Linked DNA regions of Homo sapiens: region 1 is linked to region 2. The links come from fine-mapping of genetic effects on gene expression. A gene starts in region 2. The other region holds a variant in brackets. All regions are shown on one strand. Distances are from middle to middle. Region 1 overlaps LINC01150 (long intergenic non-protein coding RNA 1150). Region 2 holds the start of MRPL23-AS1 (MRPL23 antisense RNA 1).

Region 1 (5,363 bases), 84 kb after region 2:
AAACAGCACATTCCTAGGAGCCCCCAGAGAGTCGGCGGAAGAGTTTTCAGAAAGAATGAGAGAATTCAGGAACGCGGCCAGATGCAAAATACATATTTTAAATCAGTTTTTAAAATTATCTTCCAACAACCACCAGCTAGAAGATAAAGTAGAATTTGAACATTTTTTACTCTAAAAAAACCCAAACAAGAGTATAAAGTACTTAGCGACGGTCCTCTTGAAAAGTGTTTGGAATCTGTAGCAAGAAAATGACAAACTTGAATGACAAATGTAAGAAAAAAACTTTTGAAAAAACAAAAGAAAAAAAATGGGTAGGGAGTTTGACTCTCACAAAAAATCATTTCTTTCCAAATCAATGTGTAGCCTTATCAGATTTTCAGCCAACATTCTAGTGAGTTTATTTGGGGGTGGGGGTGGGCGGGGGTGGGGAGATACTTGGCAAAAAGAAGCTGAAATTCGTACAGGAGAAACACGAAGGAACGGCCAAGAACATTTGGAACATCAGAGCCGAATTCAAAAGTGAAGGTGATGTAGCAGATTCATATTTAGAGCTCCCCGCAGACCAGCAGTCAGACAAAGCGTCTTTGGCCCTGGCCCTGTTAACTCTCACAGCAGGCTGAGGAGGTAGATGCTCTTATCCTTGGAGTCTTCCCAGAGAGCAAACTGAAGCTCAGAGGGGGTTGAACAAAATCCTGAAGGTCACACAGCTACGAGGCAGTGCAGTCAACTCTGAGACCGTGACTCCTGACTTCACAGCCACATCTTCTGTAGGTCGTAACACGGATCCTCATTCCACAATACCTATCCCGCAATGTTGTGTATGCACGGGAACCTGGGGGTGGCACGGTCGAGGGAGTCTGGCGGGGATATTTCATAAAAGAGGTCGAGAAAATCAGGTATGCACTGGGGAGGAAAAAAAGGCAGTGAGATTTGCTCTCCACATCAAATGCCAAAATACATTCCAGGTGAATTACAGAGGCTACGACATGTGAAAAAAAAAATGGTTAAAAATAAAGCTAGAGGCCGGGCGCGGTGGCTCACGCTTGTTATCCCAGCACTTTGGGAGGCCGGGGCGGTTGGATCACCTGAGGTTAGGAGTTCGAGACGTGCCTGGCCAACATGGCAAAACCCTGTCTCTACTAAAAATATAAAAAAATAAGCCGGGCATGGTGGCGGGAGTCTGTAATCCCAACTACTGGGGAGGCTTAGGCAGGAGAATCACTTGAACCCTGGAGGCCGAGGTTGCAGTGAGCCAAGATTGCGCCACTGCACTCCAGCCTGGACAACAGAGCGAGACTCCATCTCGAATAGATAAATAAGCTAGAGAGATGTGTGCTGCACACTTATCTGCTTTCATGCTGGGGAACAATGTTTCCAGCTTTAGAACAGTGGAAACATGATGGAAGAAAAGGGCAGCTCAGCCCATTTCACCACTTCACCATTTCAAGTTTCTGTCTATCCAAACATGTCCACCAAAATTAAAAGGCAGATTTCCACTCCTGGCTGAGATGGGGTAGCAGGGACTGGATTTATCTTCCTGCCTGAAACAACCAAACAGCAACACAGAACAGACAAAATACACAGGACAATGAAACAACCAAACAGCAACACAGAACAGACAAAATACACAACACAATGGCTCTCAAGATCCCACACGTGGGCCGTGCACAACAGTGCTTCCCGGGCTGGGAATTGGCCTCAGGGGCCTCTCGCTGCCCATGCACTTTCTGGTGGGTTTCCAGGCCTCAGTGCGGGAAGCGGGAGTTGAGGTGGAGCCCACAGAGTCCCTGAGCTGATGAGACAGAGCTGGGGGTCTCCAGGCAGCTGAAGTTCGTGAAGCTCAGAGAGCTGCCCAGAGAGAGAAGCTGAGACCCGAGAGTCCCCCTGGAGTATTAGGGACTGAGCCATCAGCACATCCCAGGGAAAACGTCCCAAGGCGGGAAAGCACAATCCGAAAGGACTAGAGAGACCAGTGCCGGGAGCTCACATGGACCTAGGAATTGTGTCTGCTCCCACCAGCCTCAGCAGAAAACCCTATCACGCACAGCGGTGGGGGGCTCAGAAACAGCTTGCCTCCATAGTGGGGAATAGTTAGCCCACACTATTCCAGACCTCCCTTACAAACGGTAAAAGTAATACTTGAAAGGATCAAACTGCTTGCAGATAAACAGCTAC[A/G]TTCCAGAACAAAGCTCAGGAATATTTGTGGAAATATAAAAGTATCTAGCTCCCACCCGAGTTAAAGTTTACAATGTCTGCATTCCAATAAAAAATTATCAAAAAGACAAAGAAGCAGGAAAGGGTGACCCATAAAAAAGAGGAAATATCAGTCACTCAGAGCCAACTGTGGGACGTTAAAGCTAACAACTAAAAACCCAAGTCAACCCCTAAAATAACAAAACAAAGAGTTACAGCGAAAAAGCCAGCAAACAAGATGATGTAACGAATAAAACTTCTCATGAACGCAAAAGGAGGCAGAAAAAGAGTAAAGGGGAGAAAAGAACAGATGTGACAAATAGAAAGCAAATAACAAGGTGACAGACTCTAACCTAACCATACCAGTAAGCACATTAAATATCAATGGGCTAAACTCCCCTATTAAGAAGCAGAGGGGCCATGCATGGTGGCTCACTCCTGTAATCCCAGCACTTTTAGAGGCTGGTAGAGGAGGATCCCTTGAGTCCAGGAGTTCAAGACCAGCCTGGGCAACAGAGGGAGAACTCATCTCTCCAAAAAAAAAAAAAAAAATACTTTAGCTGGGCGTGGTGGCATGTGCCAGTAGTCACAGCTACTCGGGAGGCTGAGGCAGGTGGATCCCTTGAGCCCTGGAGGTCAAGGCTGCCATGAGCTGTGATTGCACCAATACACTCGAGCCTGGATGCCAGTGAGACCCTGTCCCCCCCACAAAAAGAAAGCAGAGGTTGTCTGATTGATAAAAAAGCAAAGCCCAACTCTGTGCTGCCTGTAAGAAATATGGTTTAACTGGCCAGGTGTGGTGGCTCACACCTGTAATCCCAGCACCTTGGGAGCCCAAGGTGGTAGGATTGCTTGAGCCCACGAGGTCAAGAACACCCTGGGCAACATTTCTACCAGGGTTTGGTAGAAACCCCGTCTCTACCAAAAATACAAAAATTAGCCAGGCGTGGTGGCACACGCCTATAATCCCAGCTACTAGAGAGGCTGAGGCACGAGGATCGTTTGAACCCAGAAGGCGGAGGTTGCAGTGAGCTGAGATCACGCCACTGTACTCCAGCCTGGGCGACAGAGCGACACTCTGTCTCAGAAAAAAAAAAAAAAAAAAAAAGAGAGAAGGCCGGGCGCGGTGGCTCACGCCTGTAATCCCAGCACTTTGGGAGCCTGAGGCAGACGGATCACCTGAGGTCAGGAGTTCGAGAGTAGCCTGGCCAACATGGCGAAAACCTGTTTCTATTAAAATTTAAAAATTAGCTAGGTGTGGTGGCGTGTGCCTGTAATCCCAGCTACTCGGGAGGCTGAGTCAGGGAGAATTACTTGAACCTGGGAGACAGACGTTGCAGTGAGCTGAGATCGCGCCACTGCACTCCAGCCTGGGTGACAGAGCAAGACTCGGTCTCCAAAAAAAAAAAAAAAAAAAAAGAATTCTCAAGCAATGACCTTGCTCTCAGCTTAAGGAAAATAGAAAAAGAAAAGCAAATTAAACCCAAAGTGGGCAGAAGAAAGGAAATAGTAAACATCAAGTAGAAGCTGATAAAACAGAAAACAATAAATAATAGAACAAAATTGAGAAAACCAAAACTTGGTTCTTTAAGAATATCAGTAATCCTGATAAACCTTTAGCCAACTTGATGGGGAAGGGCCCGGGGAAAGGAGGAGAAGGATAGAAATTACCGATATCAGGAACAAGAGAGGCAGCGGGAGTACAGGTTCTGCAGAGATTAAAAGAATAAAGAGGCTGGGCGCAGTGGCTCTCGCCTGTAATCCCAGCACTTTGGGAGGCTGAGGTGGGTGGATCACCTGAGGTCAGGAGTTCGAGACTAGCCTGCCCAACATAGTGAGACCCCCATCTGTACTAAAAATGCAAAAATTAGCTGGGTGTGGTGGCACGCTGGTCTCGAATTCCTGGCCTCAAGTGATCCACCTGCCTCAGCCTCCCAAAGTGCTGAAATTACAGGTGTACAGATGTAAGCCATTGCACCTGGCCTTAAATTTCTTCTTTTTTTTTTCTTTTTTGAGATAGAGTCTTGCTCTGTCGCCCAGGCTGGAGTGCAGTGGTGCCACCTCTGCTCACTGCAACCTCCGCCTACCAGGTTCAAGCAATTCTCCTGCTTCAGTCTCTGGAGTAGCTGGGATTACAGGCATGCACCACCATGCCTGGCTAATTTTTTGTATTTTAGTAGAGACGGGGTTTCACCGTGTTGCCCAGGCTGGTTTTGAACTCCTGAGCTCAGGCAATCCACCCGCCTCGGCCTCCCAAAGTGCTGGGATTACAGGCGTGAGCCACTGCGCCCGGCCAAGTTTTCTCTTTAAACGGATGGCATCAGAAGTGGATCTGGCGTAGAGCTTCCAGCGGCCCCCAGGAGCTCTGACTGACCAATGGAGGACCCACAGGGCCCACTGTGCCCTCTGCTCTCTCAGAGCAGCTGGGGATCGTGGGAAGTTCTCTCTTGGATTCCAAAGCTCCATGGATGTGTGTTTTGAGCCATCTGAGTTTGCTTGAGCAAATTTTTTTATCTAAGCTGGGTTCAGAAGTCGTGACAGAAACTGGACTGGGTCCAGGATGGAATCTGATTTGATCATTCACTGGCTTGGATGCAGTTAGAGGCCTTGTGTGTCTTGACTGGGTCAGGCGGAAACTGGCTGTAAATGGCAGGGCTGCAGGAGGTGCACACTCCAGCTTTTGGACATTCACAAGGATGTTCGTGTTCTACTCTCTTGGTTTCTTTTTCTTGCACACTAAGGCAGGGAAAAATCATTGCTCAGTTGATCACGAGGATCTAAGAGCCAAAGCCAAGATTTAATGTAAAATGGGATCCTTCATCTCTGAAAAACCGAGCACCTTCTGGCTCGTATGTCCGTACGTGTTAGGTCCCGGACGCGGCAGATGTTTACAGAAATGGTGGCATCTTACTAAAGGTGAATGAAAATTACGGTGGGATGTTCCAAGTGAACACCACTGCACTTTAAGAAGTGCACCTAAAAACAAGGGCTCCTAATTAGCCTCATCAGGGATGCCAATTGATGTGAAGAAGCTTCTAAAATGATTTCAGTATTTTTACTCCCTCTTTTAAAAGTGTCTGCACAAAAGGCAAATGAGGCCTGGCAAGGTGGCCCATGCCTGTAATTCCAGCACTTTGAGAGGCCAAGGTGGGAAGATTGCTTAAGCCCTG
Region 2 (5,363 bases):
TGGGGAGGGAGGAACTTCCACCGTTCAGGGAGACCCTGAGGGTGCCCTGGCTTCTGGCCACGTCCCAGACCCTGTTAGGCACCGAGGTCTTCACACCCAGACCCTCCACCCACCCAAGTTTCTGCGGCACGTTTAGGTTGAGTGAAGACCAAGTCATCCAGTTAGAGAAGAGGACTTGAGGCGCGTGCTGCTGCTGTGGCCACGCTGGACCCTCGGTGCACGCATCTCCTGGCGAGTCCCCTGTGGCTCTGTGGGCCGTACACACCCGGGGCACGCGACCTCAGCTACCTTGTCACCGAGGACGTGCATCCACAGCTGTGCGTCTGTGCCTGGGAGCGGGGTCTCCACTTGGTGGGTCTCTGCATGCTGACCAGTTAACCCGCCTTTCCGGGCTGTGGAGGGCGTGGGTCCTGTCCGGCCCGGAGATGCTCCGCGGGGTGTGTGTGTGATCGTGGCCCTGTAGCGGGGTGGTGTTCCCTGGAGGGTGGACCCCTGAGCCTGGCTGTGTGTGGCTGTGTCTCAGCATGAATTCCGTGACCCAGGAGCACGTTTTCAGGCAGGGATTAGGGGCAGCTGGGTGTGGGAGGCAGGCACTTGGTATACCACCGAATGGAGACAGAAAATCCCAACTCTACGAAGGAAGTGAAGTCCCTTCAACAGGGACAAAGCGATGTTTTGGGTCTGACTACAATGCACCCTGGGAAGTCTCAAAGAAAACAGTCGGGGACTCAAGGAGGGCAGCCCCCTCTCCCCGACCCCGAGCTCCCAGGAAGATAAATGATTTCCTCCTCTCTAGAGATGGGGGTGGGATCTGAGCACTCAGAGCCAAGGGCGCAGTGGGTCCGGGCGGGGGCCCTCCTCGGCCCTCCCAACATGGGGGCCAGGAGGTCAGCCCCTCAACCTGGACCCCGGCTGGGTCTCAGGGAATGGTCTCCCCCAGTGGCCCAGCTTGCTTGTGTTTTCAGATGGGTGTGCACGGGTGTGTGTGTGTGTGTGTGTGTGTGTGTGTGTGTGTGTGATGCCTGACAAGCCCCAGAGAGCCAAAGACCTGAGTGGAGATCTTGTGACTTCTCAAAAGGGGGATTGGAAGGTTCGAGAAGGAGCTGTGGTCAGCCTTGCTCTCCCTTAAGGCTGTGGTAACCACACTAGGCATAGCATAGGCCTGCGCCCCGTCCCTCCTTCCCTCCTCCGCGCCTCTCCTTTCTCTTTCTCCCCCCTCTACCCCGCTCCCTGGCCTGCTCCTGGTGACACCGTTGGCCCCCTTCCAGGGCTGAGGGAAGCCAGCGGGGGCCCCTTCCTGGAAGCCCACCTGCAGGCCGGCTTGCTGGGAAGGGGCTGCTCTCGCAGAGGCTCCCGCCCGCCCTGCAGCCGTTTCCTGGAAGCAGTCGCTGTGGGTATTCTGTTCCTTGTCAGCACTGTGCTTGCAAAGAAAGCAGACACTGTGCTCCTTGTCCTTAGGGAGCCCCGCTCCATCACCCAACACCTGGCTGGACACAGGCGGGAGGCCGGGTCCGCGGGGAGCGGCGCGGGGCTGGGGCCGGACCAGTAAACACACACGGGCGCCAGGCACTGCAGGCTCCTCCTCCTCCTCCTGCCCAGCGCCTCTGCTCACAGGCACGTGCCAAGCCCCTAGGCCAGGAGGCCCAGCAGTGGGTGCAGAGCAAGCTCCTGGGAAGGGGGTGCAGGGCGGACCCCCGGGGAGAAGGGCTGGCAGGGCTGTGGGGGACGCTGACCGTGGGCCCCACGTTGCAGAAAACTGGCTGCCTGGCTGGAAGATGGGGGAGATGCCAAGCCTCTGAGGCAGCACGAGCAGGGTGCATGGAGGCCGGGGCGCGGGGAGGCTGCACTGCAGCATGCACCCCAAAGCCCAGAGGGAGTGGAGACCAGGCCCTGGAATCGAGAAGTAGAAAGGCGGCTTGGAGGCCTCGGAACCGGCTGACCTCCAACAGAGTGGGGCCGGCCCTGGAGGCAAAGAGGTGCCCGGGGTCCGGCCCTGCCTGGGGGAGCTATGTGTCATGGGCAGCCACAGGATATGTAGCCAGCTCTGAGCATATGGACCCAGGGCAGGGCTGCAAGGCAGGGCAGGGGAGACAGACGGGGGAGCAAGGAGCAGAGAGGGGGCCTCAGGCTCTCCCAGGAGGAACATTCTCCCGACAGGAGGAAGAGACGGCCCAGGGGTGACTGTGGGGAGCCATGGTGGCAGCTGGGGTCGTGGCAGATGGGAGAGAGGCTGGCGAGGTGAAGGTGCAGGGGTCAGGGCTCTGGGGCCCACATGCCTGTGGGAGCGGGCAGGCCCAGGGCTCTCCGCCACTCCCCACTCCCGCTTGGCTCATAGGCTGGGCCCAAGGGTGGGGTGGGATGAGCAGGAGATGGGGCCCAGGGGGCAAGCAGGGCCCCAAAGACATTTAGAAAAACCGGTTTATGCAGGCAGCATTCAGAGCAGGCGGCGTGCGTGGCGGGGGCCCTGGGAGCACAGAGAGGCACACGTAGGGCCCCCGAGGGTCTCCCCATTGGCCGGCAGTGACATCACCCCTGTGTCAACAGTGATGTCTGCAGCTCCGGCCAGCCAGGGTTTATGGAGCGAGACCCAGCCCGGCCTGGGCCCTCACTCCCCAGGCCCACACACTAGCCCACTGTTCAGGGTCCGGGGTGGCAGCATGGCCTGGGGGTCCTGGCACCGCTGCTCCTCTGCCCACCCTAACTTCCCGGCATGGCGGCTGCCCCCTCTGAGCGTCCCCAACCAGTAAGTGTGGGGCCAGCAGGCCTGCCGTCCTCCTCCTCTTCCCTCTAGAGAGAAACGTGGAGGTCCTGGGGCTGGGGGCGCTCATAGCCCTGTGACACAGGTGCATGGGGTCAGGGGTCCCAGAATGGCCCCTGGGAAGGACCTCAGCTGGGCCGGCGGCTCTAGGCTTCAGGGGTCTGTCTGCACAGGGGCTAGCCCCTCCCAGACCTCTGTGAAGCCAGTACGGGCCTCCCCTCCCTGCCCCGTGCTCTGTCCGGTGCTTCCTGGACTGCACTGCGGGCCACTGGTGAGAGGGTGGACAGGGAAGGGCCGCCGTGGTGCCTGTTCCTGCCCACCTGGCTGTGTGGTCCCCTCCAAGTAGGGACAACCCTTCTGAGGGCTTGGGGGCACCCTGGGGTTGCCAGGGCCTCCCAGAGCCCTGTGAGCCCCTGGGGGGTCTGGCCTGATGCCCCCCTCCACGTCCAGGGCCGGCTGTGGCCCAGAACCCCAGCTTCCCAGCAGGCCGGTGTGCGGTGGTGACCCAGGAGAGGCCTCACCTCCACTGAGGGGCCACCGACCTCTGCCAGGCCACAGAGACCCCCAAGGAGTCTGAAGGCTGGAGACCCGGGGCTGGGACCAGGTGGGACTTTCCCACGGAGCCGCCCCCAGGCCCAGCTGGGGACACGTCCCCCTTCTCTCCAGACACACCCTGCCTGCCACCACGACACACCGGCCTGTTGGGGGTCTCTTTTAAGTGCTTGCCACTCTGAGGTGACTGTCCCTTTCCAAAGAGGTTTCTGGGGCCCAGGTGGGATGCGTCGGCCTGAGCAGGAGGATCTGGGCCGCCAGGGGCTGGGGACTGTCTCCTGGGGAAGGAAGCGCCTGGGAGCGTGTGTGCTGACCCAGGACCATCCAGGGAGGCCCGTCTGTGGGGCAAGCGGGAAGGGAGCGGCTGGAGAGGCTTGGCCGCCCCCGCCCTGCCTCCCATTCCTTAGCTCCATGCCTGTCAACCTCTGTCACCCAGTGAGTGATGTCCAGGGGCCCTGGAAAGGTCACAGCATGTTTGAGCGGGGTGAGAGAGAGGGGAAAGGCGGGGGCGGGGAAAAGTACGTGGAGGAAGCTCTAGGCCCAAGGAAGGAGAAAGGGTTCTGGGAGGGAGGGAGCCACTGGGGCCGCCGGGAAGGTCCCTGCCTGCTGCTGCCACCCAGAACCCTCGCCTCTTAGCTAGCCCCCGCAGCCCCAGCCTTTCTGGCCTGTGCCCCTCTCCCCCATCCCCAGCTGTCCTGTGCAACCAGGCCTTGGACCCAAACCCTCCTGCCCCCTCCTCTCCCTCCTCACCCTCCCAATGCAGTGGTCTCCAGCCTGGCTCTGCCCTGCCGCAGGTCCCCTCCCCTCATTCCAGGCCTAGAGCCTCCAGTCCCGGTGGCCCCCAGCCCGAGGGTGAACGGCCTCACCCTGGGTCGTGGGACAGAGGGCACGTTCATCAAGAGTGGCTCCCAAGGGACACGTGGCTGTTTGCAGTTCACAGGAAGCATTCGAGATAAGGAGCTTGTTTTCCCAGTGGGCACGGAGCCAGCAGGGGGGCTGTGGGGCAGCCCAGGGTCAAGGCCAGGCTGTGGGGCTGCAGCTGCCTTGGGCCCCACTCCCAGGCCTTTGCGGGAGGTGGGAGGCGGGAGGCGGCAGCTGCACAGTGGCCCCAGGCGAGGCTCTCAGCCCCAGTCGCTCTCCGGGTGGGCAGCCCAAGAGGGTCTGGCTGAGCCTCCCACATCTGGGACTCCATCACCCAACAACTTAATTAAGGCTGAATTTCACGTGTCCTGTGACTTGGGTAGACAAAGCCCCTGTCCAAAGGGGCAGCCAGCCTAAGGCAGTGGGGACGGCGTGGGTGGCGGGCGACGGGGGAGATGGACAACAGGACCGAGGGTGTGCGGGCGATGGGGGAGATGGACAACAGGACCGAGGGTGTGCGGGCGATGGGGGAGATGGACAACAGGACCGAGGGTGTGCGGGACACGCATGTCACTCATGCACGCCAATGGGGGGCGTGGGAGGCTGGGGAGCAGACAGACTGGGCTGGGCTGGGCGGGAAGGACGGGCAGATGGGATCCCAAGGACATGGAATTTCGGACCTTCTGTCCCCGCCCTCTCTGCTGAGCCTAGGAACCTCTGAGCAGCAGGAAGGCCTTGGGTCTAGAGCCTAGAAATGGACCCCCACGTCCACCTGCCCAGCCTAGACCCCCAGCATTGAAGGGTGGTCAGACTTCCTGTGAGAGGAAGCCACTAAGCGGGATGGACACCATCGCCCACTCCACCCGGCCCTGCCCAGCCCTGCCCAGTCCAGCCCAGTCCAGCCCAGCCCTGCCCTTCCCAGCCCTGCCCAGCCCAGCTCATCCCTGCCCTACCCAGCCCAGCCCTGTCCTGCCCTGCCCAGCCCAGCCCAGCCCAGCCCTGCCCTGCCCTGCCCTGCCCTTCCCAGCCCTGACCTTCCCAGCCCTGCCCAGCCCAGCTCATCCCTGCCCTACCCAGCTCAGCCCTGCCCTGCCCTGCCCAGCCCTGCCCAGCCCAGCCCTGCCCTGCCCTGCCCAGCTCAGCCCTGCCCACCCCAGCCCAGCCCAGCCCAGCATGCCTTCTCTGGCTGGAG

The links. PIP is the estimated chance that this variant, and not a neighbour inherited with it, causes the effect. A credible set is the group of variants that fine-mapping cannot tell apart.
Region 1: its variant is the best candidate, but not a certain one, in a credible set for the expression of MRPL23-AS1 in cerebellar hemisphere (GTEx, PIP 0.74).

Annotation. Positions count from the first base shown.
Region 1 is chr11:1,903,372-1,908,734 of GRCh38, reverse strand. LINC01150 (long intergenic non-protein coding RNA 1150) reads right to left here. Exons shown (of 4, transcript NR_120534.1): 4 at 376-903. It also overlaps a transcript of PRR33 not described here. Among named protein-coding and RNA genes, the nearest start is that of LINC01150, 9.3 kb to the right of the region's middle. RefSeq lists enhancers at 1,247-1,746, 1,747-2,248. The variant A/G (reference allele first, on the strand shown) is at 2,176.
Region 2 is chr11:1,987,206-1,992,568 of GRCh38, reverse strand. MRPL23-AS1 (MRPL23 antisense RNA 1) reads left to right here and starts at 2,649. Exons shown (of 4, transcript NR_024471.1): 1 at 2,649-2,743. LINC01219 (long intergenic non-protein coding RNA 1219) reads right to left here and starts at 1,473. Exons shown (of 3, transcript NR_126400.1): 1 at 1,310-1,473; 2 at 289-631. It also overlaps a transcript of MRPL23 not described here. RefSeq lists enhancers at 760-4,830, 4,825-5,363, 760-5,363.